2 separate regions of the Homo sapiens genome follow, and region 2 is linked to region 1. Evidence: fine-mapped expression QTL. A gene starts in region 1. The other region holds a variant in brackets. All regions are shown on one strand. Distances are from middle to middle. Region 1 holds the start of FPGT (fucose-1-phosphate guanylyltransferase). Region 2 overlaps LRRIQ3 (leucine rich repeats and IQ motif containing 3).

Region 1 (17,079 bases):
GCCGCCATGTAAGATATGCCTTCCACCTTCTGTCATGATGCTGAGGCCTCCCCAGCCACATGGAACTGTGAGTCCACTAAACCTCTTTTTCTTTATAAATTACCCAGTGTTGAGTGTGTCTTTATCAGCAGCATGAAAACAGACTAATACAGTAAGCTCTACAAAATTAATTGAATGCCTAGTTCCATTAACAATTCGAGATAAAATATATGCTTCAAAAACTATATCAAGGACACTGTATGGTGCAAAATTATTCTTTAAAAGTGAAAAAGAAATAAATTCTGTTAGATAAATATTGAAGTAATTTGTTGTTGGTAGGCCTGCCTTGTAAGAAATGTTAAAAGAAGTTCTGAGAGAAGAGAAATGATATAGGTCAGATACTCATATCTATGTTAAGAAAGAGTGTTGGGAAAGGAACAAGTGAGGATAAAATAAAAATCTCTTATTTTTCTTATTCTTAGTTGAATAATTTGTCCAAAATAATAATAGCAACTAGTTTTATTTTAATTCATCCAACAACAACAGAATATACATTCTTTTCAAGCTCACATGGAGCATTCACTCACCAAGACAGACCACATTCTGGGCCATAAAACATGCCTTATCAAATTCAAAAGAACAGAAGCCATGCAACATCTTCTCTCAGACCACAGTGGAATTAAACTAGATATCAATAACAGGCAAACAGCTGGAAAATTCCAAAATACTTGGGAGATTTATAAACACACTTCTAAGTAACACATAGGTCAATAAAAATTTAAAGATATTTTGAACTAATAAAAATAAAATGTAAAATTTAGCAAAATTTGTGGGATATAGTACAAGCAGTGCTTAAAAGGAAATTCATAGCACTGAATACATATATTAGAAAAGAGCAAAGATCTAAAATGAATCATATAAGCTGCCATTTCTAGAACTTGAAAAAGAGCAGCAAATTTAATCCAAAGTAAATATGAGAAAATTTTTCTCATATTTTTCAAGAAAATTGTAATTCTTAATTATATTCTCAAATATTCTGGGAGGAGGGGCATATTTTATCATCATCTCATTCCAGAAGAGTCCATAAAGATCTATAGTCTCTATAAAAAATAAATACTCTACTCAGATTATATGTAGGTTCTTCTACAATGTAAAGCATCTAACCATTAACCTGTAGTTCACATGTTTAGTGAAGAGTGGGGAGGTCTTTCCATATACTCACTGTGGTTACTTTTACCATGCAATAATAAATCTCACTCCAAAATGTATCCTTTCCTTATCTGTTAGGACATTCAGAGTTAATTTTTTTCCAACTTTTATTTTAGAATCAGGGAGTACATGTGCAGGTTTGTTACAAAAGTATATTGCATAATGCTGCAATTTGGAGTATGAATGAATTTGTCACCCAAGAAGTAAGCATAGCACCCAACAGGTAGTTTCTTTTCAGCCCTTACCTGTCATCCTCTCTCCCAATTCTTGTATTCCTCTCAAATACCAAATCTTATCCGAAATATGTGTCTAAAAACATATTTTTCAGTTCCTCTTTACTGATTTTTGTTTCATATGTATTCAATATTTTAAAATCTTCTCAACTGGTTTCTTTTTAGTTGATGTGATATGAACACTAAAATAATTTAGTCTTATAAGCAGTCTTCCCCATACACTATATTAATTTACATTCATTTTCTCTATTAATATTCACCTCTGCCAACAATATGTATTTGCCAGTATATAAACAACCTTAATATTTTTAAAAATTACAAAACAGAACATAATAATACTGGTTATTGCTATTAAAAGGAAAGATTAACATGAGTAATAAATTACAGAAAAAACTAGTATTCTATATTCAGAATATAACGTATGTGTCAGTTATTTATATTATTCAGCTACATATTCTGTCGAACTTTCCAATCATTATGGAAAAGTGGGGATTTTTCATATTTTGTTTTAACTACCACATGCAGCATTTCAATTTTGTTTCTCATTATTTATTTATGTTGTACATCTGAAAACTGGAATAACTCAAATGACCAGGCCCCAGAGCATGTCCCCTGAATCATATCATTGCAGCTATGGGCCCATATGATTCTACTGCCTACCAAGGGAAGCTAAAAACCACTACAATTGATATATCCTCCTCTACCAAGTTGGAAGCCCTTTACCACTTGTTGCAAATTTAAAATATGCACATAGAGGAGGAATCTAGTCACTTTCATTCATTTTAGACTTTGATAATTTTATAACTATTTTGTGAAATGTATATACACATTTGTAAATTATCAAGTTCAAATAATAATATAATGTTCAAAGGCAAATTAAGTATAGCAACACGTTACAGAACGTATCAAGTCTCCAACCACAGTTTCAAAGAAATTCTGCAGTTAAAAATAAATCAGTACCATTATCAGCAAACCTTTCCTTAGTTTGTATCAACTAAAGTACCAATTTAAAAATTATCCTACATTTTAATTGCACTATATAAACCATGTCTATAAAATAAAATGCACATCAGTTATATCTCATCTTCACACCCAACTTTGATGGCAAACACATTAAGTGTAACTATACAAGGTTATAACTCATGAATATTTAAATTAAATATTAAGAAGTAAAAACTATTTATTTTGTATATTTATTTCTTTTCCAAATGTGATACATAATAAATATTGGGAAAAAAGTTTTCAAAGAAAGTCTTTGCTGAGTGTACTAATTACCTTTAGACTTAACACTTATTCACTGAAGCTTTCAGATACTTGGAAGACAGATCATCATTATTTTAAGTAATATATTAAAATATTAGATTTGATGGTCTACATGAAAGTAATTTATTTTATAAGCATGAACTATAATATTAGATGGAAATCTGAATACTAGACTCCAGAATTATCACAACAGCTGTTATCTGCATATAAAATCAAATCATAAAAAAAGAATAAAAAGTCTTAGTTTTTAGAAAATCTAATTGTAAGGATTCTAATCAGTAACATTTTATACATATTGTGATTACAAACTATTTTTAGTTTAGAATGTCTGCAACATATTAAGTGCATCTCTATTAACAAAATAAAGAAATTATATTTTTTAAATACTTTTTATTTGGATAACAGATTTGTTAAGTAACGACTGTTTTAATAAAGAATTGCCATGGGCCGGTGCAGTGACTCATGCCTGCATAATCCCAGAACTTTGAGAGGCCAAGGCAAGAGAATGCTTGAGTCCAGGAGTGAGCTATGATCTGCCATTGCACTCCAGCATGGGTGAAAGGTTGTCTCTAAAAATAAAAATCCTGTCTCTAAAAATATAAAAGAATTGCCATAATTTTATATCACAGAAAAAATATATTTTAAAAGTTAAGAAGGGGAGAGTCTAGTAGAACAGTCAGACTAGTACATGTGTCCTGGAAAATGAACACAGAATATAGTGCATTTATAACTTAATATAAATAACCTTGGTAGCACAAAACATTATATTTTCATGGCATATTCTATATGTTTTCAAATGACATGAAAAGTCATTCAGAACAAGGAATCAGAATTCATTTGTAATTATAACTTTTTTTCTTTAAATATATTGGCTTTTTGAATTTTAGAAGGTTATATACTTCTGTTCAGAAAAAAAGCTTTTGTGAGACCTCATTTTTCAATTTTTATTTTTATTCCAACTTGGAGACTGCAAAAGCATAAGCCTGAAAAAACTAAAAGGTGGTGAGCCAGAAGATGGATATTAAACAGCCAAAATTAATAAAAACATTCACAGAAAATAATCTGCACAGAAATCACAACCTCTTAATAAAGAAATTAGCACGACAAATATTTCTTCTAGCCCAAAACATTCCTTGGTTAGCTTTCATAGAACAGATTTTGGATCTCCTAAAATTAAGCCATTAATACCTTTTTCTTAAGTGTCATAAATATTGTATTACATTAATTAAAATTTAATTCTTGACTCTACTAATTTATATTCTTCAACCACTTGCCCTCTCCCTATCCCTTTCCCCTCCCCGAAACCTCATCCTGGTATTTGGACAAAGTAGATTATGATTACACTACTGGGGAACTCCATTTGGAAAAAAAATCTACAAAAATACTAAGGGAGGAAGTATAATAAAAGTTCAGGGGTGGGAGAATGTTTCTCTGCACTACAGAAAGTTGAGGGGTGTGAGGGTTCCTCCAACAGGGCATAGTGAGAAAAAAAATATTTAAGAAATAAATTGAGAACAGGCTAGCTGAGTAAATAAATCGAAATAAAACAAACTGCAAAAAGACAATTTTTGCTTTCGTTGCATGTCAGGAAGGGTAACAGGAGGAAACAGTGGTTAAACAGAGCCATGAAGCACAAGGACTGGAAACAAGTACAGCCCTAGCTTGGCCTGACCACAGCATGCACTACGAGCTCCACAGTATATAATCCAGGACCCTATTCATTTGGCTTCAACTTCCTCATATAAAGAAGGGGGGAAAATTAAAACATTCTTCTCTATAATTTCCACACAACAGTCATAGTTATATGCCTGTAGTAATAAAAAAACAGTGTAACTGGCATTAACTGTAAATGGGTTGGAAGACATTTTAATGGGGGGATGAAAATGTTCTAAACCTGTACCTCAATAAAGTTGCTTTAAAAAATCTATCTCATTCTTCCTTATGGCAGCTCTTCAGATACTCTCTACTCTCCTCCTGGAAATAAAAAGCCCAAATGCCTCCACAGAATATAATTTTTCAATTTATTATAGTCTAGTATGTTCAACATCTTTTTAAAAATGTGGAATCCAAAACTAAACAGATTATTTCCTGTGTGTTTGATTTGTGCAGAATTAATGGGCTTACAGCTTGGCTGGATTGATATATTTTACTCTGGTAAAATGACATTCTGATAAATACCTGGAAAAACTCTGTGGCGAATTCTCTAGTATAATAATACTCTGGTAGCTTAAGATGTTAAACAGTCATATCACACTGTTTTATTATAGTGAATATGAACTTAAATAAAATCCCTAAACTTTTTTTGCCTCCAACAATCAACTGCCACGGAAATTTACTCCTACTCATATATATAGTATTTTTTAATTTTTTTTTTACTAAAAATTAATATTAATGAAAATTTGAGAAAAGAAAGAAAACAGAAGCCATAGCTGATAATATGGTATATTTATTTCCAGCAAATTTTGATTGCATGATATAGTCATATTGAGAAAAAATAATATCCAATTTCTATGGCCATCCTTCCCAGATCCAAGAAATACTCTAATATTCTGTATGATACCGTCCTAGATCCAATAAATACTCTATTTAATATTCTGTATGATAGAATCTAACACATCACTCTGTTTGTCTCCTCACAATTGTTACCACTGGATTTTTTATTTGGTTACTTCTTCCTTCTTTATTTCACCTTATTAGAATATACAGACCCCAAACATATAGGCTCTGCTGACCTTCACTCCCTTGGGACCTCACTTAGTTCCACAGTTAAAATTAATTCTATCTTCTTGCTGACAATTCCCAAAATTGTATCTCTAGCCCAGACCTCTCTCCTGAATTCTAGACTCGTATGTATAATGCATACAGACACATACACACACAAACTTCCATTACATATTCACTGCATACACATGTCTCTTTATTCCACATGTCCAAAATCAAATTCTGGACCCTATTACCCCAAAAACCTTCCTCAGTCGGAAACTTACCCATCTTAATTGATGGCCAATCCATCCCAAGGCAGTCATTTTGACTCCTCTTTTTCTCTTACAGTCCACACCCATTAATTCCATCAGCACATTTTATTGTTTTTGTCTTAAAAATATATCCAGAATCTGACCAACTTCTCACCATTCCCACTGCTACCATCCTGGTCAAGCCTTCACCAGCTCTCACCTGCAATATTGCAGTAACCTCCAAAGAAGTCTCCCTGCTTCTATCATTGCCTCATCCCCCATTATAATCTATTCTCCTATCTCCGAGTGATCTCTTTAAACATAAGCCAAGTCACTTCAAAACCCTGCAATGGCTTTGTTTCCCTCAAGAGTAAAAACCAAAATTCTTCCTATGGCCCTTTGTTCTCTCTCTGACCTTCTCTCGCTACTTTCTCCTTTGGTTACTTTCACTCAAGTCTCTGTATTTTCTAAATGTTCTTCAATAAGATACTGTTTTTTTAATTAATGAAGTTTTAAATGTAAAACTATGAAAGAGTAATCTAATCTGCCATTTTATCCAAATGTTTCCACTATTAGAACACGATTGTATAACAAGTCTGAGAAGAAAAACTAAGTAAATTTATGACAAGAGTTTATGGTGCCCTGAATGTCTACGTACCTAATGAAGACGTTGATACAGAGAAATCGTCTCAAAAAATCAAACGGTATGGTGAAATACCACAAGTTCTGGGTTTGGGATTGAAATATATTTCTTAAATCTTTTATTACTTACTAATTGTGATACCTTGACTAACTCACTATTCTCTGATTCAGTTTTCTTCTGTGTAAAGATGAAGTGGTCTGTAAAACCAAGAAACCTCGTGTTCTATAACAGGAACACCTTTATATAGCTACCCAAAAAAACACCTAAAAAGGCTGACTTATTCCTAAGAGTGTTATTGAACATTCTAGATTAATCTGCATATACAAAAGAATGCCAGAGAAGAAACCAAAATACCAAAAATATTTGGAGCCTGGTTGCGGACTGAATTTTATACAACTTTCAAAGACACTATTTGAGAGGCTGTCGTGTGTAGCCTACTAAGAAAAAACAGAGGGGTGGGGTGGCTCACTCTCTAGGAACCACAAACTTAAGGTTCCTAGAAAGAGCAGAGATTTTAAATATTCAGACTGTGTATGTATCATGACCCAGGGTTGGGGGCAGATGGCCCGGGGTGGCGGGGGAAAGGAGAGATGGCGGAGATCTTCTATCAGGCTATCCTGGGGAACTGCTCCAGGCTGAAACAAACCACCAGTTAGGACGAACCGCCTTTGATGTGAAAGCTGGGAAGCTAGAATGTAGTTTCGCCTTATCCTTAGCGGGTCGGTTCTAACAATTTTGTCACCCAAACTGAACCACTCACCGGGTCAACTGGGCTGCAAGCCCTTATGAGTTGGAGACAAGTGGCCCAGCCCCAACACAGTCAGACAAATCGCTGGGCGGCCATCTGCTCCTGAGACCGTTGCTAGAGAAACAAGACAACATCCAAGTTCTCCACATCATGGTTTTCCGGGCGCCAGCCAAGGCGCTCCGGGGGCGTGGTTACGTGGGCGACGCACGGAGGGGGCGGGTCAGAAACAACCGGGCGGAGGCGCACCCCAGGGCGCATGCGTGCTGTGCGGCGCGGTCTCAGGGAAGGTGGGGCTATGGCAGCTGCTAGGGACCCTCCGGAAGTATCGCTGCGAGAAGCCACCCAGCGAAAATTGCGGAGGTTTTCCGAGCTAAGAGGTACCAGAGAAGGCACCGGAGTTCTCCTGGGCAATGCAGAGGGAGGGTGCTTTTACGTGCCAGGAGGTTTGCTGGACTGTCACTTCCCGTTTACTTCTCATCTGTAGGCCTATGACGCTCCCCAGGAGTAGCTAGCTAATAATCCTTTTGAGTTTTTTATTCTTTTCACTGTCCCTGCTTGACATGCTTGTTGCTTACTTTATTCTTAGTAGTATAGATATTAAAAATGAGGGCGGAGGAAGAAGAAGAAAATCTTACTAGTGAAGTTATGCATTGATTAGCTCATTAATAAAAGTTGCTTTAAATAAATCTAAAAGATACGAAGCACAGTATTTTGAACTTTATGAGTAGATGCCAGCCCCCTATCTACTTCACGCTTTACATTACGTTCATCTACTTCTGTAATGTAACCGTTTGTTGAGGGAGTAACAGAACATGGAGGAATTATGGATTAAAAATTAAAAGGAAGAAATTTGTTATCAAAAAATTGGCTATGACACTTAATCCCTGTACACCTGTCTAATAAAAGTGATTATATTTGTGTTGCAGTGACTGCTTAAAAAATACTGGGACTAATTCTTGGATAACAGTAAAACTTTCAGGACTATTAGATTCTAGCTGACAAGTTCTGTTTGTTAACTAATTAAAATGCTAAATCATTTTGTTTATCAATAAAGAGATTCCAACTGTCTACTAAAAGTGCACACTGTCTTTTAAAGATGTCATCAGAGAGTTGGGACCTTCTGTTATCCAGAATTTTATGTTATATTCTAACAGCCTATGTAAGTTTGCATGGTTCATCTTAAAGTAATAGAAAATAAAGTACCCACATTTATAAACAGCAACATTGAGGGAAGGGATCTTTGGGTTGTGTCTTTCTTAGTCACCTAACACCAAGTGTCCGTGATACATAAGAATTGATTTGCAAAGCTGGAGATTTGTTTATGTTTATCTCCTCTTCTTATTGAAGAATTGAGGCAATAGTCTTTGGCAAGTTAAAAGTCGCTCTCTTAATCAAGAAACATTATGTCATTCAGAATTTATAATTAAATTGGATTGCAAACCATAAAAGGAGGGAGTGATCTAAAAGAAAAAAAAGGAACTTGTGAACAGTCTTCATTATAACTATTTTGAATCGTATTAATGCACCACTAATTATTCCCTAACTTTCAAAAGCCAAAGATACATTTTGGAAGATGATAATGGATATTACCTTCTTTATCATCTTTCTCAATAGGCAAACCTGTGGCAACTAGAAAATTCTGATAATTTTTGTTTTCATTTCCTTGCTTTTTCCAAATAGGCAAACTTGTAGCACGTGGAGAATTCTGGGACATAGTTGCAATAACAGCGGCTGATGAAAAACAGGAACTTGCTTACAACCAACAGCTGTCAGAAAAGCTGAAAAGAAAGGAGTTACCCCTTGGAGTTCAATATCACGTTTTTGTGGATCCTGCTGGAGCCAAAATTGGTACGCGCTTTATGGTCAGTTTTATAATATAGGTCCTAAGCAGAATAATCATTGAAGAAAAGGTTTCTGTGACTTACAGTGTATAAGCTGCATATCTCTACCCACAGCTTTACAAACTTTAAAATTTGAACATAAATTGACTTTTTTTAGAAAGATAAAAGGAATAGCAACTGTTCTTACCCATTATGACTTACCTTGAAAAACTTCCAGAATGTTACTTAAAAGAAAATTTTATTAGTTTTAATGAAATTCACACTATTCAGATAGGAATACTCCTTTGGACCTTATCAGTAGAACCCTTGAGGTCCTCTCCACTCCAGAGTTCCTCCAGCAATTTACATGAAGAAAGCAATTAGTGGGAAAAAATACTCTTGACCTCTTAGGGACATAATGCAGAATGCAAAAGAACACTGTCACATGGCTTAAATATAATACATATATTTGAAAACCCTAGTTTAGGTCAACTTTGCCCTTTGACCGTCCATTGCAAATAGAAATAAATGCTGTTTTTCTGAATGCTCTTTTCTATGTGATACTTAAAGTTGAAGCCCCCTGATACCAGAGATAAGATATCTGTATATGACATTAATATGACATTAGCATTATTCTAATTAGCCAACATTATTTTAATCCTTACAACTATGAGGTCAGTACTGTTATTATTTCTTTTTTTTTTTTTTTTTTTTTTTTTGAGAAGGAGTCTTGCTCTGTTGCCCAGGCTGGAGTGCAGTGGTGCGATCTTAGCTCACTCCAAGCTCCGCCTCCCAGGTTCAGGCCATTCTCCTGCCTCAGCCTCCCGAGTAGCTGGGACTACAGGTGACTGCCACCAGCCTGGCTAATTTTGTTTTTGTATTTTTTAGTAGAGACGGGGTTTCACCATGTTAGCCAGGACGGTCTGTATCTCCTGACCTCGTGATCCACCTGCCTCGGCCTCCCAAAGTGCTGGGATTACAGGCGTGATATTATTTCCATAGATGAGAATCTGAGGTACTCAAGAGTTAAGTAACTGGCCCAAGATAACTAGTGTGGTAGTTATATTTAAGATTTTTTTTTGGGAATCCAAGTTCTAAAAATCTTTTTTCGAAAGGAACTCTAACTTGTGTTTTTGATTGTGTCATTTGGGAGAATTATTTAAATGGGCTTTGTGATTTGTAACTCTGTATGAATGTTTATATTTATCAGTCTTCTAGTGTTACAGATTGTGTAATTGATTCTTCTTTCTTATAATTACTATTTTGGGGAGAATATTACCTCATCATTTATTACTGAGGGTTGTTGTCTGGGTTTCATTGCTAATTTATTGATTGGTTGTTTGCTATGAGATGTTTTTAATTTTGTTCTATTGCCAATACCTTTGATGTCCATCTATTTACTTATTCCTGAAAGGCAAATCCTTAAGGTTATATAACACCTAAATTTACTGTCATGACAAAGTTTTAGTAGGTTTCTATTAAATAAATTGTGCTTTTTTAACTTTGTTTTTAAGGAAATGGAGGATCAACACTTTGTGCCCTTCAATGTTTGGAAAAGCTATATGGAGATAAATGGAATTCTTTTACCATCTTATTAATTCACTCTGGTAATGTTATACTTTACTAATTTACATTTTCTTTTTAGTCTTCCACCTTTAATACTTTAGAGACTTTTTTCTTTCTTGCAAACACTTTCCTTCTTTTTTAAAAGAATCTTTGAAGTTATTCTGCTTTGAAAACAAATATTTTATGATTTTCATGACTTTTTTTAGGTTGTAAGTAGTATAGTGATTTTCACAAATTTTACTCGTAAAATTGTAGATCACGTATATCGTCAGTCTTTTATGAATATTGTTTTGTTTTGGGTATGTATATAGAAAATTATTTTCCTAAGACAACTCATTCAAATATGAATAGTTCTCGGGAATACTTTAATGGGGATTTTTCTTTTAATTTTAATTTGTATTTTAAGTTCCAGGGTCCATGTGCAGGTTTGTTACATAGGTAAACGTGTGCCATGGTTGGTTGCTGCACCTGTCAACCCATCACCTAGGTATTAAGCCAGCATGCATTAGCTATTTTTCCTAACACTCTTTCTCCCTTAATGGGGATTCTTGCTTTGAGGGAAGGGTGGTTTAACACTGTCATTACTAGACTTTTGCCAGTACTTTTTATCTTGCATTTTTGTGTGATTATTGATAGCCAGAGGCCACAATGCTTAAAAATAAAAGGAAAATGTGACAAGATACAGAGTGGACAAGTAAATATATAAAAGAGAAATCACACACACAAAATAAGACATTTTAAAACAGAAAAGTAGGAAGGACATGGTCTCAGAATGAAGAATAGCTTTTTAAATTGAATACATTTAGTTGTGTGAAAATTTTGGTTACATGAAAACCTTTGTTGTTTTTCTATGTATGTTAAGGGGCTAATGAAAACTGTCATGAACTGACACCAGTCCAGGGACAGGTATTTTAGAATTATTCATCTACATGGCTTCCAAGGCACTTTTTCATTCTTATGATTTACATACAAAACAATGATTCTTTGTAAAGATGATGTCAAAGTAAAGCATCCAAGTTCTGGTTTGAAGCCTAAAAATGTGTAAAACAATCTAATTTACAATTTTATTTAAGAAAATAATTATTATCAGTTTAGTAAAAATTAAATTAGATACCAGGAAATGCATAGTTAGATAATTTTTTTATTTTTATTTTTTGGAAATAGATAATTCTTAGTGCTAAACTTGACTATTGGCTGCTCTTTGAAAAAAGAAAAAAACAGAAACTTATTAGCTCTCTTTTGTTGAACAATGTACTGTGTGCTGCCAAGTGCTTTACAGGTATTATTGATCTTCAGTAATAAATTAACCTTAGCTTACTATAACATTTTTACTTTATAAACTTCTTAATTTTTTTGACTCTCTTGTAATAACATTCAGCTTAAAACACAAACACTGTACAGCTGTACAAAAATATTTTCTTTATATTGTTAGGGTTTATTTTGTTGTTTTTATTTTTACTTTTTAAATATTTTGGTTAGAAATGAAGACACAAACATATTAGCTTAGGCCTACACTGGGTCAGGATCATCAGTATCACTACCTCTATAGTCCTACTAAAGTTCAGGAGCTGTCATCTCCTATGATAACAATGCTGCCTTCTGAAAGACCTCCTGAAGGACCTGCCTGAGGCCATTTTATGCTTAACTTTTTTTTGTATGTATCATATGAATTTATTCTAAAATAACAATGAAAAGTATAGTATAGTAAATACATAAACCAGTAAAATAGTCATTTATTACCAATTATTATATACTATATACATAATTGTATGTTCTGTAGTTTAGTAAACTGGCAGCACAGCAGGTTTGTTTATACCAGCATCACCACTTGAGTGGTGCATCGTGCTAGGACTTTACAATGGCTCCAACATCACTAGGTGATAGGAATTTTTCAGTTCCATTATGATCTTATGGGACAACCTATGTATATGCTGTCCATAATTGAGCGAAATGTTGTAAAGAAGCAAGTATTTTAGCATTAGTATATTAGTTTTCTATAACTTTTATTTTCTGTGAAGTAGATTTTTTTTTTTTTTTGAGATGGAGTCTGGCTCTGTCGCCCAGGCTGGAGTGCAGTGGCACGATCTCCGCTCACTGCTGCAAGCTTCGCCTCCCGGGTTCACGCCATTTTCCTGCCTCAGCCTCCAGAGTAGCTGGGACCACAGGCGCCCGCCACCACGCCCAGCTAATTTTTTGTATTTTTAGTAGAGATGGGGTTTCACCGTGTTAGCCAGGATGGTCTGGATCTCCTGACCTCGTGATCTGCCTGCCTCGGCCTCCCAAAGTGTTGGTATTACAGGCTTGAGCCACCGCGCCTGGCCTTCTGTGAAGTAGATTCTTAATTAGAAGTCTAAACATGGTTGAAATTTGTTGTTTAAAATGTAGATACAGGCTGGGTGTGGTGGCTCACGCCTGTAATCCCAGCACTTTGGGAGGCCGAGTTGGGTGAATCACCTGAGGTCAGGAGTTTGAGACCAGCCTGGCCAACATGGTGAAACTTCGTCTCTACTAAAAATACAAAAATTAGCCAGGCGTGGTGGCAGGTGCCTGTAATCCCAGCTACTCGGGAGGCTGAGGCAGGAGAATCGCTTGAACCTGGGACACGGAGGTTGTGGTGAGCCAAGATCGCACGTCACTGCACTCCAGCCTGGGTGACAGTAAGACTTCATCTCAAAAAAAAAAAAACAAATGTAGATGCAACATCATGTTTTGGGCCGTGGTCCTTCTTATTTGTTATACATGTAATTCAAAACATTTCACAGATTCTACAGTATATTTAAATTTTTTCCTGACCTACAGTTTTTAAAATTGTCTTATATCAAATGGCAACAAGAAAATTTCTCTTCGAATTTTTAATTTGGATTTCATTATTCTTTCCTGATTTGCAGTAACAAGTGGCATATATTAAATATCGTTAAATATATTTTGATTTGTAACTTATGGGTTATAAAACCCTGGGGTTTTGAAAATTTTATAAATAATACTGCATTTTTAAATGGTTATTTCGTTTTAATTTTATAGGTGGCTACAGTCAACGACTTCCAAATGCAAGTGCTCTGGGAAAAATTTTCACTGCTTTACCTCTTGGTAACCCCATTTATCAGATGCTAGAATTAAAACTAGCCATGTACATTGATTTCCCCTTAAATATGAATCCTGGAATTCTGGTTACCTGTGCAGATGATATTGAACTTTATAGTATTGGAGAATTTGAGTTTATTAGGTTTGACAAACCTGGCTTTACTGCTTTAGCTCATCCTTCTAGTTTGACGATAGGTACCACACATGGAGTATTTGTCTTAGATCCTTTTGATGATTTAAAACATAGAGACCTTGAATACAGGTCTTGCCATCGTTTCCTTCATAAGCCCAGCATAGAAAAGATGTATCAGTTTAATGCTGTGTGTAGACCTGGAAATTTTTGTCAACAGGACTTTGCTGGGGGTGACATTGCCGATCTTAAATTAGACTCTGACTATGTCTACACAGATAGCCTATTTTATATGGATCATAAATCAGCAAAAATGTTACTTGCTTTTTATGAAAAAATAGGCACACTGAGCTGTGAAATAGATGCCTATGGTGACTTTCTGCAGGCTTTGGGACCTGGAGCAACTGTGGAGTACACCAGAAACACATCAAATGTCATTAAAGAAGAGTCAGAGTTGGTAGAAATGAGGCAGAGAATATTTCATCTTCTTAAAGGAACATCACTAAATGTTGTTGTTCTTAATAACTCCAAATTTTATCACATTGGAACAACCGAAGAATATTTGTTTTACTTTACCTCAGATAACAGTTTAAAGTCAGAGCTCGGCTTACAGTCCATAACTTTTAGTATCTTTCCAGATATACCAGAATGCTCTGGCAAAACATCCTGTATCATTCAAAGCATACTGGATTCAAGATGTTCTGTGGCACCTGGCTCAGTTGTGGAGTATTCCAGATTGGGGCCTGATGTTTCAGTTGGGGAAAACTGCATTATTAGTGGTTCTTACATCCTAACAAAAGCTGCCCTCCCCGCACATTCTTTTGTATGTTCCTTAAGCTTAAAGATGAATAGATGCTTAAAGTATGCAACTATGGCATTTGGAGTGCAAGACAACTTGAAAAAGAGTGTGAAAACATTGTCAGATATAAAGTTACTTCAATTCTTTGGAGTCTGTTTCCTGTCATGCTTAGATGTTTGGAATCTTAAAGTTACAGAGGAACTGTTCTCTGGTAACAAGACATGTCTGAGTTTGTGGACTGCACGCATTTTCCCAGTTTGTTCTTCTTTGAGTGACTCAGTTATAACATCCCTAAAGATGTTAAATGCTGTTAAGAACAAGTCAGCATTCAGCCTGAATAGCTATAAGTTGCTGTCCATTGAAGAAATGCTTATCTACAAAGATGTAGAAGATATGATAACTTACAGGGAACAAATTTTTCTAGAAATCAGTTTAAAAAGCAGTTTGATGTAGAGATATTTTAAATATTGTACACTTTGCCTTTTTGAGTAACATTCCAGAGATAGGTATTTTTTGTAGGCTGTTTCACTGAACTCAGTTAATGAAAACTGTATTAACATAATTGTTGTAGCATAATATTAATAGTGCAAAAGTACATATAAGTCATTTTGATGAAAAATATTCCAAGACTAAGTTGAGAAAAGAGATACTATTTTGGATGTGTATCAGTATTTTTGTTTTTAATAATGATTGATTTGTGGAGCATTGTTTTTTCACATAATTAGTTTTAAAGGTAATTTTCTAAGCATACCTTTGGAATTTTTCCATCTTTTTTGAGGCTTTTGGTCCAGTGAAGTTCTAAGTATTCACTGGCACTTCTCTCCTCAACTGTAATTCTATTTTTAATAATAAAAATGGCATACTGTAGGGTCTTCAGAGTAGTGTAGGAATACTGTAGAAATACTTTTTCAGAAACGAATCCATAGCTGACAAATTCACTCAGTGCCCAATATATTGTGATTATTTTCGTTGATAAAGAACTAGATACAAAGACCTCTGAAATTGATGATAAAATTTGTATCTCATTAATTTTATCAAAATGAAACTAAAAGTACATATGTATTATACACTTGAACATGTGTTTGTATATCTTTAAAATTTTCCTTTATGTTCCATTCCATAGGAAAACACACATATGCACACAAAACTCAGTTATCTGTGGGGAAAGTGGTAGTAATAATTGAGATTCATCAATAATCATATAATTTCACTATAGACATTACTTGCATTATCTCCTATCAGTCCTTCTAACAAAACTTCAATTACCAGATGAACTGACTTTAGTTTTCATCTTATTTTTTGTCCACATGCTGGTGATGCTGAGAAACAATAATTGGCCCAAATGCAGACATCAAGAAGCAGGCAGGAAAATGGAAAAACTGAGATAATACACAGGTGATAAACAGTTTCGAGAAAATAAAAATTGGCTAGAATCTCAAGTTATGTGTTTCTATATTGGTATAAGCATATAAGTGAAAAGTCTTATAAGTGTAATAGAGAAAAGATTTGTCAGTGTGTTTTTTTAAATGAAATAACTAGTCTGTGCTACTTTATGTCAATATAAAAATTGGTAAACTAGAAGTAACTTGTCCACAACCCTCAGTTATGATACTTATGTGCGTGTTTTTTTTTCCAAAGTTTTTCCCAAGGAGAAGATACAAATATATGGTAGCTATTGTTTAAAAATGATTGATTTACTTGCAGATTTTTCAGAGGATGTTATGTCTTTGTCATTCATTAAATGTTCAAAATTGTAGTTTTACCAAATCTGAAGTGCCATCAGTTATAAGAATCACCATTATTTTATGTTCCATTAAGAAAAACACAATAAAACATGACACTGCTTTTTTTGTTACTTGAAATTTTCATATTTATTGGAGAGCTCTTTTAGATGTTTTTAAATACAGATTTTTATTTAACCCTCTTGCATATACATATAAAATAACAAAAAAATAAAATATTGAGATATCATCAAGAAATTTCTACAGCTTCACATTCAAACTCTTCAGCACTTTCAGAGCTATTGATATGCATATGTCCACCTAGTACCATCTTCTCTGCTTTCAGAATTATTGGTAAGGCTGCATTTCCTGAGTGCTCTACCACACTTATGTCTGGATTTTTTTTACCCAGCTACAGACCCACACTCCTGCAAGATTTGATACCCTTCTATTTGGCAAAACTCAGTTTCACTTTTCTTTCAGTTTAATCACAGGTCCTTAGAAGATCGGACCTGTGATTCTATTCAAAGTCAGAAAGAGATTTCTCACAAATTGACGTCATATTAACATGTCAATATGAAAATTAATTGTTTGGTAAACCAGAAGTGACCTGTCTGAAGCCCTCAATTGTGGTATTTGTGTGTTTGTTTTTTCTTTTTCAAGATTCTTTTTAAAGAAAATATATGGTAGCTGTTGTTTAACATTTATCTACTTACAGAGCGTTCAGAGGATGTTATATGTTTATTAAGTGCTCAATACTGTATTTTAACCTAATCTGAATTTTAATCATAATCCTGTACAATGCATGGATTCTGGTTGCTTTGAAATGGTTCTGTTCAAAGGACTTATCAATGTCTCTTGCTTTGAGATGTATTGCTTGGTGTGTAGTAGCACAAACGTACCACCAATAATGTACCTAATTCAACTGAAGTG
Region 2 (17,079 bases), 180 kb before region 1:
TGTTATATGGAGGCAGCCTCTTAATTATGAATATAGGTACGCCAAAACCAGTAGCTTGTGAGTGCAGAATACTCCAGGCTAATGCAGCACCATGTTCAGAGTGGCTGTATGTGACTAGAACAAAAAGTAAATACCTGGTGGAGATGCGACTGAAGGCAGACGAAGAAAATAAATTTTAAAGGGCTTTCTCTCAGATGCTAAGTTGCTTGGGTTTTTAACTTGAAAGCAATGGGGGAGGCATTAAGGGTTTATTTTTTAGCTAAGGAGTGTAGGTACAGATTTATATTTTAGACAGATGATGAATCTGAGGTGTGGGGCCAGAAAAGCTGGAAGGAGAAGGGTTAATGGGCTGCATTGCAGTACATCCAGGTGAAAGATGATGAAGGTCTGAACTCGTGATGGAGAGAAGTACCAAAGAAATTGATTTTAAATATTTTAACTGGAAATGGGTTATAGATTGTTTAGATAAACAGGATAGTGGAACAGTGGGATCTAGGATGATGCCTTGGTATCTGCCTTGGATGATGGGACCTTAGAGGAAAGCAGTCCCAGTGGGGTGAAGGAGAAGGTGAGAGTACATTTGGTTATAGCTTAAGGTGCCTACCAACCTTTCAAATGGAGACACCCAGAAGATATTTCTCCCTGAGTTGGTTGAGATCTACCACATATTCTCTTTAACTGTAATTTACTATTTTTGTGCATGTTTTTAATCTAATCAAGTTTTTTTTCTTTTTTAATTCCTTGAAAGAAGAAGGAGAATTGCCTCATAGTCCTTTGCATTCATCACAGGCCAAGCACAATCCATTGCTTATAGTGGTTGCTCAGTAAGGATTTGTTTCTCAATAAATGCATTGTTTAATTGCAATAGAATGACTCTGATACATACTAAGTTAAGTTGGATACAGTTTACTTGAGAGGGCTTTACAAAGGATTTCTGTGTGAAGGGTAGAAGGACAGTAGCATGGTGCATTTATGAAAATCTTTCTGCCATTAGTTTTTTAATGTGTACCCTCAATACTCAGTATCTTAGAAACTATTACTTACATACATTTTGAGAACAAAGATTATGTCTTATTTTACCCTCATTTTATCCCAAGCTACTTTCATGGCACATAGTAGGTATTCAACAAATATGTGTGGAATAAATGCATGAACCAGAATCACTAGTTCACAGTTTATGTACCAAATTACACTGTAAAATTCAATATTTAATAATAGCTATATGAAAATAATAGATGGAATTTATGTAATTTTTACTGTCCAATAATCACAAAGTATCTTTGTTTGTTATCTTTATGATATATTTGTAGTTGGAGTCTGTCCCTTTATATCTGAGCAGCTCTGCCTCCATCTGCTAGTGATGCCAGATGGAGGAGAGGCAGGAAGACCAAGAGATTAATGAAGCAACTCATCAAGTTGTTTGAAAGGCAAAAAATATATAAGAAAATTAAATCTGTTGAGATGCCCTTTAAAGAGCAATGGTTGCATGTTGTATATGTTTAAAGTTTCTAGAGACAAAAAAGAAAAAAAACCTAAGAAAATTTCTGGGAGATAAAATTGTTAATGACTTGTAAGACATCCATGCCGGAAAAACACAGGGTATCATCTTCTCCTTAGTGTCTGTGTTAACACCCTGGTGGCAAAGGAAATTAACTCTTTCTGACCACAAGGGTGAAATTAACTGCACTGGGGAGTACAAAGTCCATTAGTGGAAATGGTTCCCCATGGCTCTTATGTGGTGATAGGCTCACAGACCATGAAATAAGGGTGCAAGCTAGTCTTTCCAAAAGAAAGCCAGTACTTAAGAACAAAGATATTGCCTGTAATTTATAGGAGGAAAAGAAAGGCAAAATCAGGTGAACTCTGCTGGACTTGCAATTCTTTGGAAAGCAGTAGTGAAAATGGAGGGGAAAAAACTCATGCACGACAGTTTAGGACAGTGCCAGATGTCAGCTAGTGAGAGATAAAAGATGAAAAGTTCCTCAAACAGTGTTGTAATGCAATAAGCTACATTATACAACTCACCATTATGAAGTGTATTCTAGTAGAAATAAATTCATTTTAAATGTTGATAACATACATTTGCATGACAAAGAAATAGTGTTGATAACATTACAAATGAAAAAATACACAATGAGAAAAATGTTATTTATTTATTTATTTTAACTTTTATTTTAAGTTCAGGGGTACATGTGCAAGTTTATTACATAGGTAAACTCATGTCATGGGGGTTTGTTGTACAGATTATTTCATCACTCAGGTATTACGCCTAGGACCCATTAGTCATTTTTCCTGATCCTCTCCCTACTTCCACCCTTCACCCTCCAATAGGTTCCAGTGACTGTAGTTCCCTTCCTTGTGTCCATGAGTTCTCATCTTTTAGCTTCCACTTATTAGTGAGAACATGCAGTATTTGGTTTTCTGTTCCTACATTAGTTTGCTAAGAATAATGGCTTTCAATATATTTTAAAAGCAGCTAAAGCAGTGAATATATCTGTATACCACCCAAACAAATATTCTTAATAAAATAATTATGGAAACTTACTCATTAGAATTATATAATTCCCTTTTCTAAAGAAAACTTTAGGTGGTTGCAGCCAAGAAAATGTAAATACTAATTTTTTAGTTTCTGTTTGCTTAGCTTTCCCTCTCAGCTCCTGGTGAGTCAAGTGCCATGTAGATCTGTAGTTCACCTCAATTTCTCCCTTGGCCTAACATTATTTTTTTTTTACATTTAACTTCTCAAGGTTAATTCTTTTGTTTGTTTAAAAATAACAGTCCTAGTAAGAATCCTGAGTTCAAATTATTTGCTAAATTTGGTTCACTTGACAGAATATAATACTTTTGAAATTTTAGTTAGTTAGAGCCACAAGCAGGCCAGACCTGAAAAGAGATATGGGGAAAAAAGGCAGAATTATATTATAGTACTGGGGCTTTCTTGCTGGAACTTTAGGAACACATGCCTTCTTTTTTCATCTTCCAAGAATTACAGTCATCATGAATATTCTCTATTCACTCATTAATCTTTCACTTATTCAACAAACATTCTTAAGTTCTCATATATGCCAATCACTATTCAAATTTCTAAATGTAGATGGCACTGATCTTAAATTTACACATATATATGTACACACACGTACACACACACACATATATATATACATACATACATGAAGTCCTCACTTAACACTGTCAATAGATTCTTAGAAACTGTGACTTTAAGGAAAACAGTGTAATAAAATCAATTTTACCAAAGGTTAATTGATACTAGAACAGAGTTATGGAGAGGATTTCTGGCAAGATGGCCGAATAGGAACACCTCCGGTCTGCAGCTCCCAGCAAGATCGACACAGAAGCTGGGTGACTTCTGCATTTCCAGCTGAGGTACCTGGTTCATCTCATTGGGACTGGTTTGACAGTGAGTGCAGTCCATGGAGGGCAAGCCAAAGCAGGGCAGGGCATTGCCTCACCCAGGAAGCACAAGGGGTTGGGGGATTTCCCTTTCTTAGCCAAGGGAAGCCGTGAGAGACTATACCATGGGTCACACGCCCACAGAGCCCAGCAAGCTAAGATCCACTGGCTTGAAATTCTCGCTGCTAGCACAGCAGTCTGAGATCGACCTGAAAAATCTGGAGCTTGGCAGGGGGAGGGGCGTCCGCCATTGCTGAGGCTTGAGTAGGCAGTATTATGCTCACAGTGTAAACAAAGCCACAGGGAAATTCGAACTGGGCAGAGCCCACCACAGCTCAGCAAGGCTGACTGCCTCTCTAGATTCCACCTCTGAGGGCAGGGCATCTCTGAACAAAAGGCAGCAGCCCCAGTCTCCCTGGGACAGAGCCACCTTGGAGAAGGGGCAACTGTGGGCACAGCTTCAGCAGACTTAAATGTCCTTGCCTGACAGTTCTGAAGAGAGCAGTGGTTCTCCCAGCACAGTGTTCGAGCTCTGATAATGGACAGACTGCCTCCTTAAGTGGATCCCTGACCCCCATGTAGCCTGACTGGGAGATACCTCCCAGTAGGGGCTGACAGACACCTCATACAGGAGAGCTCTGGCTGGCACCTGATGGGTGTCCCTCTGGGACTAAGCTTCCAGAGGAAGGATCAGGCAGCAATATTTGCTGTTCTGTAGCCTCTGCTGGTGATACCCAGGCAAACAGGGTCTGGAGTGACCGTCCAGCAAACTCCATCAGACCTGCAGCTGAGGGTCCTGACTGTTAGAAGGAAAACTAACAAACAGAAAGGAATAGCATCAACATCAACAAAAAGGATGTGAACACCAAGACCCCATCTGTAGGTCGCCAACATCAAAAACCAAAGGTAGATAAAACCACAAAGATGGGGAGAAACCAGTGCAGAAAGGCTGAAAAATTCCAAAACCAGAACGCCTCTTCTCCTCCAAAGGATCACAACTCCTCACCAGCAAGGGAACAAAACTGGATGGAGAATTAGTTTGGCGAATTGACAGAAGTAGGCTTCAGGAGGTGGGTAATAAGAAACTCCTCCGAGGTAAAGGAGCATGTTCTAACCCAACGCAAGGAAGCTAAGAACCTTGAAAAAAGTTAGATGAATTGCTAACTAGAATAACAAGTGTAGAGATGAACATAAATGACCTGATGGAGCTGAAAAACACAGCACGAGAACTTAGTGAAGCATACACAAGATTCAATAGCTGAATCAATCATGCAGAAGAAAGGATATCAGTGATTGAAGATCAACTTAATGAAATAAAGCGAAAAGACAAGAGAAAAAAGAGTGAAAAGAAATGAACAAAGACTCCAAGAAATATGGGACTATGTGAAAAGACCAAATCTACGTTTGACTGGTGTACCTGAAAGTGATGGGGAGAATGGAACCAAGTTGGAAAACACTCTTCAGGATATCATCCAGGAGAACTTCCCCAACCTAGCAAGGCAGGCCAACATTCAAATTCAGGAAATACAGAGAACACCACAAAGATATTCCTTGAGAAGAGCAACCCCAAGACACATAACCATCAGATTCACCAAGGTTGAAATGAAAGAAAAAACGTTAAGGGCAGCCAGAGAGAAAAGTCGGGTTACCCACAAAAGGAAGCCTATCAGACTAACAGTGGATCTCTCAGCAGAAACCCTACAAGCCAGAAGAGAGTGGGAGCCAATATTCAAAGTTCTTAAAGAAAAGAATTTTCAACCCAGAATTTCATAACCAGTCAAACTAAGCTTCATAAGTGAAGGAGAAATAAAAGCCTTTATAGACAAGCAAATGCTGAAAGATTTTGTCACCACCAGGCCTGTCTTACAAGAGCTCCTGAAGGAAGCACTAAACATGGAAAGGAACAACTGGTACCAGCCACTGCAAAAACATGCCAAATTGTAAAGACCATCAACATTGTGAAGAAACTAAATCAACTAATGGGCGAAAGAACCAGCTAGCATCATAATGACAGGATCAAATGCACACATAACAATATTAACCTCAATGTAAATGGGCTAAATGCTCCAATTAAAAGACACAGACTCACAAATTGGATAAACAGTCAAGACCCATCAATGTGCTGTATTCAACAGATTCATCTCACATGCAAAGATACACATAGGCTCAAAATAAAGGGAGGGAGAAATATTTACCAAACAAATGGAAAGCAAAAAAAAAAAAAAAAAAAAGCAGGGGTTGCAATCCTAGTCTCTGATAAAACAGACTTTAAACCAACAATGATCAGAAGAGACAGAGAAGGGTATTACATAATGGTATAGGAATCAATGCAACAAGAAGAGCTAACTATCCTAAATATATATGGACCCAATACAGAAGCACCCAGATTCATAAAGCAAGTTCTTAGAGACCTACAAAGAGACTTAGACTCCCACACAATAATAGTTAAAGCCACTGCACTCCAGCCTGGGCAACAGAGTGAAACTCCATCTCAAAAATAAATAAATAAATAAATAAATAAATAATAAAATAAATAATATATATTTTTAAAAAGAGTTAAGTTCTTATGGCATATCTCTGGTCACAAAAGCATCACCAAACTTCTAAATAAAGACAAAAGACTTCTAATATTAAATATTGAAATAACAGTGAGTTATACATACATATAAGAAAGACTAACTAAAACAAGTAAGATCATTATTTACTCAACTTTGGTGAATAAGTGAATGACGGTGGTCATCGTGGTGGTGGGTTAAATCAAGATGTTTGCAAAGTGAAAACTTTAAAGAGTACTTCCTATCACCACACGGTTCAAAAACAATGACAAATATGGCAAGTTCACTGAGTGCTTTTGTACAGAGTCATTTATTGTTATACATTTGTATGATTATTGTATACTTTACAAATTTTTTTGACAATAATTTGTATTCATTCAGTCATTATCCAACCCATTTATTCTAGTGGGTAGCTGGAGCCTATCCTGGGAACCCACCCTGGACAAGCTGCTATCCCATCAAAGGGCATGCACACACACATCCACACTCACTCAAACTGAGACCATAAAGACAGGCAATTCACCTAATGTGCACAGTTTTGGGATGTGATAGGACACCAAAATGGAGAAAATCCACAAATCCATGGGCAGAACATGCAAACACCCCACAGACAGTGGCCCCAGCCAGGGATCAATTTTTTTTTCTCATCAATTTTGTAAGGAAATTCTGTTGAATGAAGCGATATTATTTGAGGACCTGTTCTTTGTGTGTGTGTGTGTGTGTGTGTGTGTGTGTGTGCATTTGAAATGAAGTTCCCTTGTGATGGCTGGTCAAAGATAATGCCCCCGTAAATATTCTCTGTATTAGAGATGAACTTGGCTGTCCTTCCTCCCTAAAACATTTATCTGCTCCCCAGCATTTCCAAAAGCTCTTGTATTAGGTGAAGCCATGTGTAAAGTTCTGGCCAAGGACTCTGAGCAGACTTGACATGTCATTTTGGAGCCAAACCATTTAAGGGTTGGGCCCCCTCCTTTCTACCATGTTCTTTCTTTGCCATAGCAGCATCACAGGCCATCTGTAAGACACTGACACTATTAAACAGTGATGTCTTCCTTAGTCACACTGGACATGGAGTATCAGTGAGAAATGAACTAAACTAGGCTAAGTCACTGAGAGTAAAGGGTCTGTTACCCTAGTCTGACAGTGTCAGGCTGTTAAACATGATGGAATTATCCTGAAATGATAGAGGAAGTGTTGATATGAAGAGTAGGGATTATAATATATCAAATCATACATTTCTTGACTTCTAGGAACTGTGTGTATCAATTGAAAAGTATTGCATATTATACAGATATAACCATTTAGTTTCTGCCTGGTTGGTAATGACCTCTATTCATGAGAAGATAAAAGAAGGTTCTACACCTCTGACAATCCACTTTCTCATGAATTATTTCCTTCATCTTGAAGAGACTTTTAGATTCTCAGACTATACAGGCAGATTTACAGTGAAGATAATGAGGCTTAACCTTCAGTACCCCTCATATTATGGTCCCCTTCCAAGGCCCTATACTTAACTTGATAATTTTGTATTATTTTCCCAAAAGAGCATCCTCTCAAGTTGAATAAGCTTCAGGCCCCATAAAAACCTAGATCTAGCTCTAACTGATCTTTTACATTACTACATTTACCTGGCACTCGGCTTTATTTTTGTGTTTTACCAGTTATTTATCTAGTTCTCCAGAAGTAAACAATAAAAAAAACCTTCTCCCCTTGTGGCCTGGGCACTGACTATGCATATTTCCCTCTTTAGGTTACTGGGCCAAAAAGATGTTTCCTTTGCCTGGGTGTTTAAGCCACTGATGTTGTGAGCTTCAGTCATCTTCAATAGCTCTCATTTGCATATGGAGACTGGCACCTACATATTCACATATACATGGAAACACATATACACACCCACAGACTTATGAACACACATGGAAAACACATTTTGTGATGTGTTTATTTCATATAATAAGATCACCTTGTAATAGAGACCTTTACCACATATCAATATCAGGTGAACAAGGCCACTGTCTAAAGATTTCTACTGCAGAGGTCTGTCATTTTCACAAGGTCCAGCTCATCTCAGAGGCCACATAGTGTACTCTTAGGCAAATTAGTTAAACCATATTAACCTATGCTGATGAGTTTTTGGAGTTAGCCTATCAAATGAACAAACAAAAACAAAAATGAAAAAACAACATCTGTATGATTACCAGGTGACTTTCTTCTTCTCAAAAGTACTTTATCGTGTAAATCATGAGAGCAGCTGCCATTTTTATATGGATCCATTCTGGCTAGAAGGATGGTAGGAGGAGGCAAAAGGGGTGGCCAGGAAAAGAGTGGTTAACAATTACACATGCAGGTAGCGTGTTAGAAACTCTCTTTCTAAAGCAATGATAAAGTACTCCATTCTTTATTTAACTCTCATAATCAGTCTTCTTCTTTATCTGAAGAACCACATTTTTAGAAGTAAAATTCTAAAAAAAGTCAGCTTTCAACCTTGTATTTTTTTTCTCTAAATGTAGGAAAGAAGGGAAAATAGGAGGTTTTTGAAATTACTATAAATAGGGCTTTTAACCTAAAAGTTGATTCCTCAGCAGAATAGTTTAGATAGTTAATGCAAATAATGAAGCAGATTAGAGTTTTTTTCTTGAAATATTAGTGGCACTGAATGCTCGTATCTCAATTTTGTCAATCTATAGGATATATTTATCAATCTTTGACCTCTACATAGGACAGAAAATTTTAGTATAAACAATTAAAATATTTAAAGGGTATTATTTGTTCTTGATGTCATTCCAAGGGCTAAACAGTACACACAGGAAATTAAAAGATATCCCTCTTTCTTGTTTTATTAAGCACTGGGGATAAACAAATTAAGATACAGGGAATCCACAGTCAAATGTGTGGAACAGCATATAATCAATTTGTTGTAATGCCATGTAAATAAGTAATATAATAATACAATAATATAATAAAGGCATACACAGAAGCACTGGATAAAAGACTTTCAGAGCATGCCCCTTGACTCTAGAAGATCAATCAGAAATTCTCTAAGCAGACAAAAGCGTAAGGGCACTTGAGGTAGAGGAGATAGAGAATTGAATAATCTGATAGGTGGAACATGGGGCTTGAGACTTCTGATGGCAGGAGAAGCTGGAAAGGTAGGAACTGTCAAGGCCATTAAGATTTTCTTCTTTCCTGCTACTTGGAAAGGGTTTTTTTGTTTTTTTTTTTTTAACTTTATCCTATTGCAGTTGGGATATGACCAAAGAGTTGATTTCCACTTCAGGATATGCAGAATAGATTTGAAGAAAGAAATAGCAAGAACTAAACATTGTCATTGGAGATTCAGAGGAGAGTTTTAAGAGCAATGAGATAAGAGGATGCAAAAGAGTTGGTTATATATGACATGTGGTGGAGAATTATGTTAAGGATGACCTGCAGGATAGGTTCTGAAAGGGAAGATCTATGATTTTAGTCTGTAGCATGTTGAGTTTGAATGCCATGTGGGTCATCCAAGTGAACATGTTCAGTGGATGATTAGAAATATGCCTGGAACTCAAGAGAGATGCTGTTAGGACCTGTTAGAACATGGGCAATGTGATTATGGGCAATGTCAAAAAACATGGCCTTGCATGCCGTGAACCAGGAAACATACAAATTGAGAAGAAAGCTATATATGGGAGAATGATGCAGTAGTCTGTTCAGGATGCTATAAATACCATAGACTTGGTGGCATACGAATAACAGAAATTTATTTCTCATATCCCTAGAGGCTTGGGAGTCCAATATTAAGACACTGGCAGACTCACTGTCTATGAGGACCTGCTTCCTGGTTCATAGATGGCTGTCTTCTTGCTATG[T/C]CTTCACATGGCAGAAGGGGTGAGGGAATGCTCTGGGGCCTCTTTTATGAGCATTAATCCCATTCATTAGGGCTCTGCCCTTATGACCTAATCATCTCCTAAAGGCCCCACCTTTAAATATGATCACTTGAGGGATTAGGTTTCAACATATAACTTTTAGGGAGACACAAACATTCAGTTTACGAACGTGATAGCACCAAAATTTAAGGAAAAAATAACAGCAGGAAAAAAAGTCAGAAGGGTAAGAAAGGATATAAAGAGCAGCATGTGGTGTCATGGAAATTGAGATGGAAAAAGATGTGTCAAAGAGGGCAAAATTAATAGTAGTGAATGCTTCTGAAAGTTCCAGCAAAATACAGGCTAAAAGATGTTGATTTGACTTAGCAAGAAGGAGGTTATTGGTGATTTTGTTGATGTTTTCATTACAGGGTCAAAAGATGAAATGGAAGTCTGATTTTATAGAATTGATATGTAAAACACAAGACAGGATGTTTATGTATTTTGGTAAGATTTGAATGGCCTGAGAAAGTGTATATTTAGCAGAGAAGGAATCAATAAATGTGACAAGTGGGGCAGATAGGAAACTACAGAAAAGAGCAAATAGTTGTTTAATCATTTCAATATACATATTTACAATAAAAGTAAAAATATATATAAAGAGATTCTTTGTTCTTTTTGAATGTAGGCTTTAAAAATCTTCAACTTTGTTACACACTAAATCATAGCCAAGGAAGATATCTGTGAATGATTATTAAGGACCATTGCAATGTGTAGGACACTGCTAGAGAAGGCTGTCAATAGAAAGATGGTAACACATTTTCTGACTGTAAAGACTTTATAACCTAAGTGAGGCAATTAAACAAATAGGCAAATGACCGGAACAAAAGATAGGGTAAGATGAGTGCCATAGGGCTGTACAGGCAAAGTATCATGCCTGAACTTCAATTTATTGTGCCTTCTGATTAGCAGCCTCTGAAGCATTCCCTTCCAGTTTTCCCCAAAGCGGAAAATTCCCAGCATGGAAAATAATGAATAATAACAGCAAACACTTATCTAACACTTACTATGGCCCAGGCACTGTTCTGGGTATATCACATTCACTTATGTTTAAAACTTTCATGATAGATAAATATTATATCCATTTGACAGATTATTAAGACAAAAAGCCTACTTTTTGCGCTTTAAAAAGATCTCTTACAGCCGGGTGCGGTGGCGCATGTCTGTAATCCCAGCACTTTGGGAGGCCGATGTGGGTGGATCACGAGGTCAGGAGTTTGAGACCAGCCTGGCCAATATAGTGAAACCCCGTCTCTACTAAAAATACCAGAAATTAGCTGGGCATAGTGGTGCATGCCTGCAGTCCCAGCTACTTGGGACGGAGGAGAATAGCTTGAATCCGGGAGACAGAAGTTGGAGGTTGCAGTGAACCAAGGCTGTACCATTGCACTCCAGCCTCGGTAACAGAGTGAGACTCTGTCTCAAAAAAAAAAAAAAAAAAAAAAAAAAAAAAAAAAAAAAAATCTCTTACATTTGTAAAGTGAGATTTACTGAGACAAAATAAACGTATTGGAATTCTTCTTATTCTGGTGTACGACTGAGACCATTGCTAGTAAGAACAACAAAGATACTCACTGGAAGGATTGTTGGTAACTCATGAATCTAAATGAAGAAATCTGGGACTAAGCTCAGAAAATGGGTAGATACCAAAGCAGGCTAGGTAGCAGAAGCTCAGTAGACAATGCCACATATATGGCCATCTTTGACATTGCTATCACTGGAAATTTTCGCTGCCACTCTTGGACTCAACACCACTGGGAATGACTTCTTGTCTTTTGTCCTGGTATCACTTTAGAAGTGCTAACATGAACATCAAACGACTGGCTCTATATCCCAGGAGTTGAAGTGAAAACTTTTTGATCCCTCTAAATTTGTGTTAAGACATGGTTAATAACTCAAAACAGGCCAAAGGGTATTTCCCCAGAAAAAGAACATTTAGATGATTTATAGGCAAAAGTAAACAAAAGAATCTGACAAATGTACATCTACATTTTTCTTATGATACCAACACCTCTCACTACTCCCATAAGGTGGCTCAATCCTAATATAAGTATTCTTTATACAACTACAAAAGCATACATTTAAACATATACATTTTCTCTATCCACTTCTCTAAGGGAAATAACTCAAAGTCTCATTAGTTACTACATTCAGCTTGGAGCCCAGGATCACTGTGCAATGGCCATTATGCTCCAGTTCTATTATGATACTTCATTAATATTATATGGAATAGAGGAAATGGAGAGGAAGAAAAAATATAAAGTATACAAATGCATTCGTGATAAAACATGAAGGCAATATGAGTAGAGGTTGTGATCTTTATTTCTGTATATATTTATGAAGCCATAGTTAAAATGCATTACTTTCCACCTCCACCATCTCTTCAAGGTACTTTTGCCTTCAGCCAACAATTCACTATAACAGGCTTTACCTGGTAGGCTTACCCAAATATTCTTTCCTGAGAAATACAAGCCCTTGCTTGTAAAGTGTTGAGGCAGCGTTCCATTAACTTTAGCTCTAGACATGGAAGTATATGGAGATGTTCCAAGGGATAGCTGGAGCTCTATCTGTACTCCTTCATAGTTTTATTGTGTGAAAACTCTGTTTCCCATTGATAATCAGACACTTACTGGGAAAAGTAAGCCTAGAAATTCCCTGGTTAAAGTATGGGCAGGAACTTAGCAAATCCAGTGGCACAAAACAAAGTCATGTTAGAACACAGAAAGAATCTGGAAGAACTTCTGGTAATACAGCCATAGGAAACTAGTAGTTTCTCTCCTGGAATGTTGAGCTGCAATGGCAGTGAATAATTTATAAATTACCTCTGTCTTAGCAATATTTCAAGATCCAGAATCATGGGCAAGAATAAATAATCAATCAGGTGCCCTCACTGTAGCTGAGTGTAGGGGGAGGGAATGTCTGATACCTTTAGCCCCATTGTGAATGACAAGCAAGTTTCCTCCTTAAAAACCCACAAAGCCTACTAATACTTTGCCTCATAAAACCGAGAAGCCTCACTTGCCTAAAATAAGATAGGGAGATAGGTTACTCCCTTTCCACTGCTGCATCCTAGTTCAAACCCTGTATCTGTACCAGTATAAAAATGGGATCTCTTCCCCAGTATGAATGTGTTTGCTGCTACTTATGCTAGCTAGAGTCTGCTGAATCACTCTGTATAGACTCAACCATTATGATATATTAATTACAATAAAACTGTTGGTCAGAAAATGTATATGTTTGAATGTATAGGGTGGTGCTCGTATGTCTCATTTGCTTTATGTGCGAAAGTTATCATAGGATTATGGATGAAGACAAAGACAGGAAGAGCTCAGCCAACAATTGTTTAAGTGTCAGTGACCCAGAAAGTGACAGGGTAGGGTGAAGGAGTTGGGTGAGAAGCAAGAAAAAGAGATCAGTAAACAGAACAACATGCATACATACATATACCCCTAAACCTAGAAAAACAACCCAAAATATTAACAGTGGTTATCTGTGGGTCATAGGCTATTACTTTCATTTTATAATTTAAATACATTTTCTACTTTTCAAAAATAATGCTGCTATTATAATTGAAATACAATATTTTAAATTGTTATAGTGACTCAGAAGAAAGTGTAAAATACATCTAATTGGAAGGATTAGACAAATTTCTATGGATCACAGTGTTGGGGTATTAGATTTCATTAAAAATTATGCAGGTGACATTTGTGATATGGAGCGTATCGGCCAGGAGTGAAAAATAACTGGAGTCAAGGAAGAAGTCATATAATCATGGTTTTCAAGAACCATTAATGTTCTAATTTGAATGGGATGGGACGTGCTATTATAGGTCAAGCATCCCTAATCTGAAAATCTGAAATCAAAATGTTCCGAAGTCCAAAACTTTTTGATACCTGACATGACACAAGTGGGAAATTCCACACCTGACCTCATGTGATGGGTCACAGTAAAAATGTGGTCAAAACTTTGTTTCATGCACCAAATTATTGAAAATGTTTTATAAAATTACATTCAAGCTATGTGTACAAATGTATATAAGACACAAATGAATTTCATGTTTAAATTTTGGTCCTATCCATAATATACCTCATTATGTATATGCAAATATTCCAGAATTTAAAAAAAAATCTGAAATCTGAAACAATTCTGGTCCCAAGCAACTTGGATAAGGGATGCTCAATCTGTAGAAGATAAATACCAGAAACAAATCAAGAAATATGGTAGCGCTTCTAAAGAGAGTATTTGAGGTAGAAATAATATATTGTTCTTTAGACTTTCTTTTATTATGTATGTGTCTGTACATATGTGTGATCTGTGTCTGTGTGGGTGTGTGAAATTTAAAAAAAATCATTCTGCTTAAGTCTGTAATTTGCACTGAAGGTAAGAGTTACTCTATGAAAGAGTGCAACAGAATTCTAAGAAATCTTTTAAAAAGTGCTGGCTGAAAGGGTAGGAATAGGAAAACAAATTAACCAACAATATACATATTGCTTTCTAGATTTAACTAAAAAAATTTTTTTAGACATAAGTGATCTGAATAATGAAGTTAAAGGCAGTATAGGACACTAACACCCAGAACCCATAACATTTAAAACTTTACATGGGCTATAGTATGAGTAGACCTCGGTCTCCATATTTCTGTCTTCAATATTGGTTTTCTTACTACCCCACAAAGCCAGTACGATACGTTGGGTTTTTGTGATAGTAGCACTCCTATTTTGGTAACAAGTTCTCTACTGATTAAATCACTCATAGATGCTGGCCTAATATAGTTGATGTGGTTGCAAAGCCCTTAATATAACTGAATTTTCTTTTGGATGATGTAAAGTACAAAACAGGTATTCTCTATCATACTCCAAACAGGGATTTAGGAGGCCAGGTTCTTTCTATCTAGGGAATTTTTTAAGCAATAATGTTTTAAAGGCTTACATATATAACCAGTGAGTATTAAAGAGAAATTTTGAATAGCATTAGCTACATCGTATTTAGTGAACAATGTCATAATTATAGTGAGACACTCATCCTTCTAGATATATGAAATCACTATTGAAAATGGATGCAAATTTTACAAAGGATTTTTCTGTCTTTTTTAACAGTTTATTTTTCAAATTTTCTACCATTGGTATGTATTAAACAGACTTATGGTTAATATATACCATTTCTGTATATTTTATGATTCCAATATATAATTATATGGGTTGTCTCTTGCTTCTCTCCTCTGTCTTTTCCCTGTCTTCACATGTATACCAAACAGGGCAAACCCATCAAAAGTAAATATACAAAAATCTTACAGTCTTCAAGGAAGGTGATAAGAATGTTTAATTTACTTTTCATAGTTCATATTTTCTGAATTTTTATAACAGCATATATCACTGACAAAATATTGAAACCATACTTTAAAAAATAAATTCAGAAATTGTTTTAACAAAATAAGCAGGAAATATATAAAAGCAGGTAATAAAAGTCATCAACGTACACAGTGTCTTAATAAAAGTCAGCAGTTGGAGTAGAAATTACTATTCTAAGGTTTCCAGAAAAACCTAAATTAGCTTATGAATTGCTATATTTAGAAAGAATATGAAACAGAATATCAGCAATGTCATTGCAACATTGTCTGCAATACATTAAATCAGTTTAATTGTTCCTTAGGCATCTGATCTAAGAAATTTTTCAGAGGTGCTAAGTCAACTTTAAGTTAAATTATGACCAATAAGAGAAACATTTTAACTAATCTTTATATTTTTAGAAGACTTATATATAAATCCATCTTGTGATGTAGAGTATTTCTTGCTTTAGAGTATTATTTCAAATTCCTTCAACTAAAAATAATGACTATAATTTAAGATGATCATAGGATGTGATCTGGCATTGATTCATTTTATCAGTCCATTGGGAACTTTAAAGTCTAAATTTGTTTTCACAATTGCTACTTTTGTTTTAGCATCTTGAAGTCTTTCACAGGCTTTTTCAAAGGCAATCATATCCATAACAAATTTTTCTTCACAATGTCTTTTATATATTTCTTGAGATCTAAGAGGAGAAAGAAAGGTAATAGAATGAGATACTTTTAAATACTGAAACCATGGCAATCTATTAGACTATTAATGATAATAATTAGATGTCTTCGAAATAGGCATATACAAGTGAGAAAGACACAACTCCATTTATATAACTTGGTTATATCATTAAACAATACTCAGACAAGTATTTATGAGATATCTATAAGCTATAATTAAAAATTCTCACAAACTATGGCTTAGATTTCCAAAGAGGCATCTAAACTACCCTATGTCATCACCTAAAATACATCTCCTTAAGCCTCACTAAACCCAAGCTACTTCTTCGACTCTGTTATGGTCTGAATGCATTCCACCATATTCATATGTCAAAGTCCTAACTCCCAGTGTCTTTGAATGTGACTATTTGGAGATAAGGCCTTTAAGAAGTAGTTAAGGCTAAATGACATTATATGGGTAGGTCCTAATCCAATATAATTTGTGTACTTATAAGAAGAGGAAGCAAGAGCAGAGATGTGAGTGTACAGAAGAAAGGCCATGGGAGGACACAAGGCAAAGGTGGCCATCTGCAAGCCAAGGAGAGAGGGCTCAATAGAAACCACACCTGCTGACACTTTGTTCTTGGACTTCCAACCTCCAGAACTGGGAGAAAATAAATTACTGTTTAAGCCACCCAGCCTGTGATATTTTGTTATGGCAGTCCTAGTAGACTAATACCCTGCCAAACCGGGGAAATGTCACAGGTCTTAGGAGATTTCATTCATTCATCCTTATTTATTCAACAATTATGTATTGTGATGCATGGCACTAACCTTAGATGCTGGAGACATAAATATGACATGATGTAACTACATGAAGCTTATCAAAAGTTAAGAGAAATAAATGTATATAAATATACAAATGAGATATTATGGTTCATCGTGAAAACATTATGTAACAAGTCAGAGTGAGGAAAAACTTGAGTAAAAACTTGGTAAATATAAACTAAAGAGCAAGGAGGGGAAGATAAAAAAAAGTTTAAAGTTAAAATAACCTTTGAACTGAATCTTGAAAGATGTGTATTTTCCAGTCAGAAAGTGGAAGAGAATTTTGTTCAAACTATTTTTATATCACGAACATGGTCAAAACAAAGGTAGAGAGGGTAGCACAGCTTGGAATGCTCCAAGAACTGGCATCAATCTAATTGTCTGG

What was found. PIP is the estimated chance that this variant, and not a neighbour inherited with it, causes the effect.
Region 2: its variant is fine-mapped to the expression of FPGT in lung (GTEx, PIP 0.98).

What each region holds. Positions count from the first base shown.
Region 1 is chr1:74,190,955-74,208,033 of GRCh38, forward strand. FPGT (fucose-1-phosphate guanylyltransferase) reads left to right here and starts at 7,288. Exons shown (of 4, transcript NM_003838.5): 1 at 7,288-7,406; 2 at 8,710-8,877; 3 at 10,364-10,456; 4 at 13,437-17,079. The coding sequence starts at 7,325. The coding sequence ends at 14,878. LRRIQ3 (leucine rich repeats and IQ motif containing 3) reads right to left here and starts at 7,222. Exons shown (of 8, transcript NM_001105659.2): 1 at 7,042-7,222. It overlaps FPGT-TNNI3K (FPGT-TNNI3K readthrough), which reads left to right and starts at 7,288. Exons shown (of 27, transcript NM_001112808.3): 1 at 7,288-7,406; 2 at 8,710-8,877; 3 at 10,364-10,456. The coding sequence starts at 7,325. RefSeq lists a silencer at 7,126-7,225.
Region 2 is chr1:74,011,069-74,028,147 of GRCh38, forward strand. LRRIQ3 (leucine rich repeats and IQ motif containing 3) reads right to left here. Exons shown (of 8, transcript NM_001105659.2): 8 at 14,947-15,901. The coding sequence ends at 15,745. Among named protein-coding and RNA genes, the nearest start is that of LRRIQ3, 180 kb to the right of the region's middle. The variant T/C (reference allele first, on the strand shown) is at 9,815.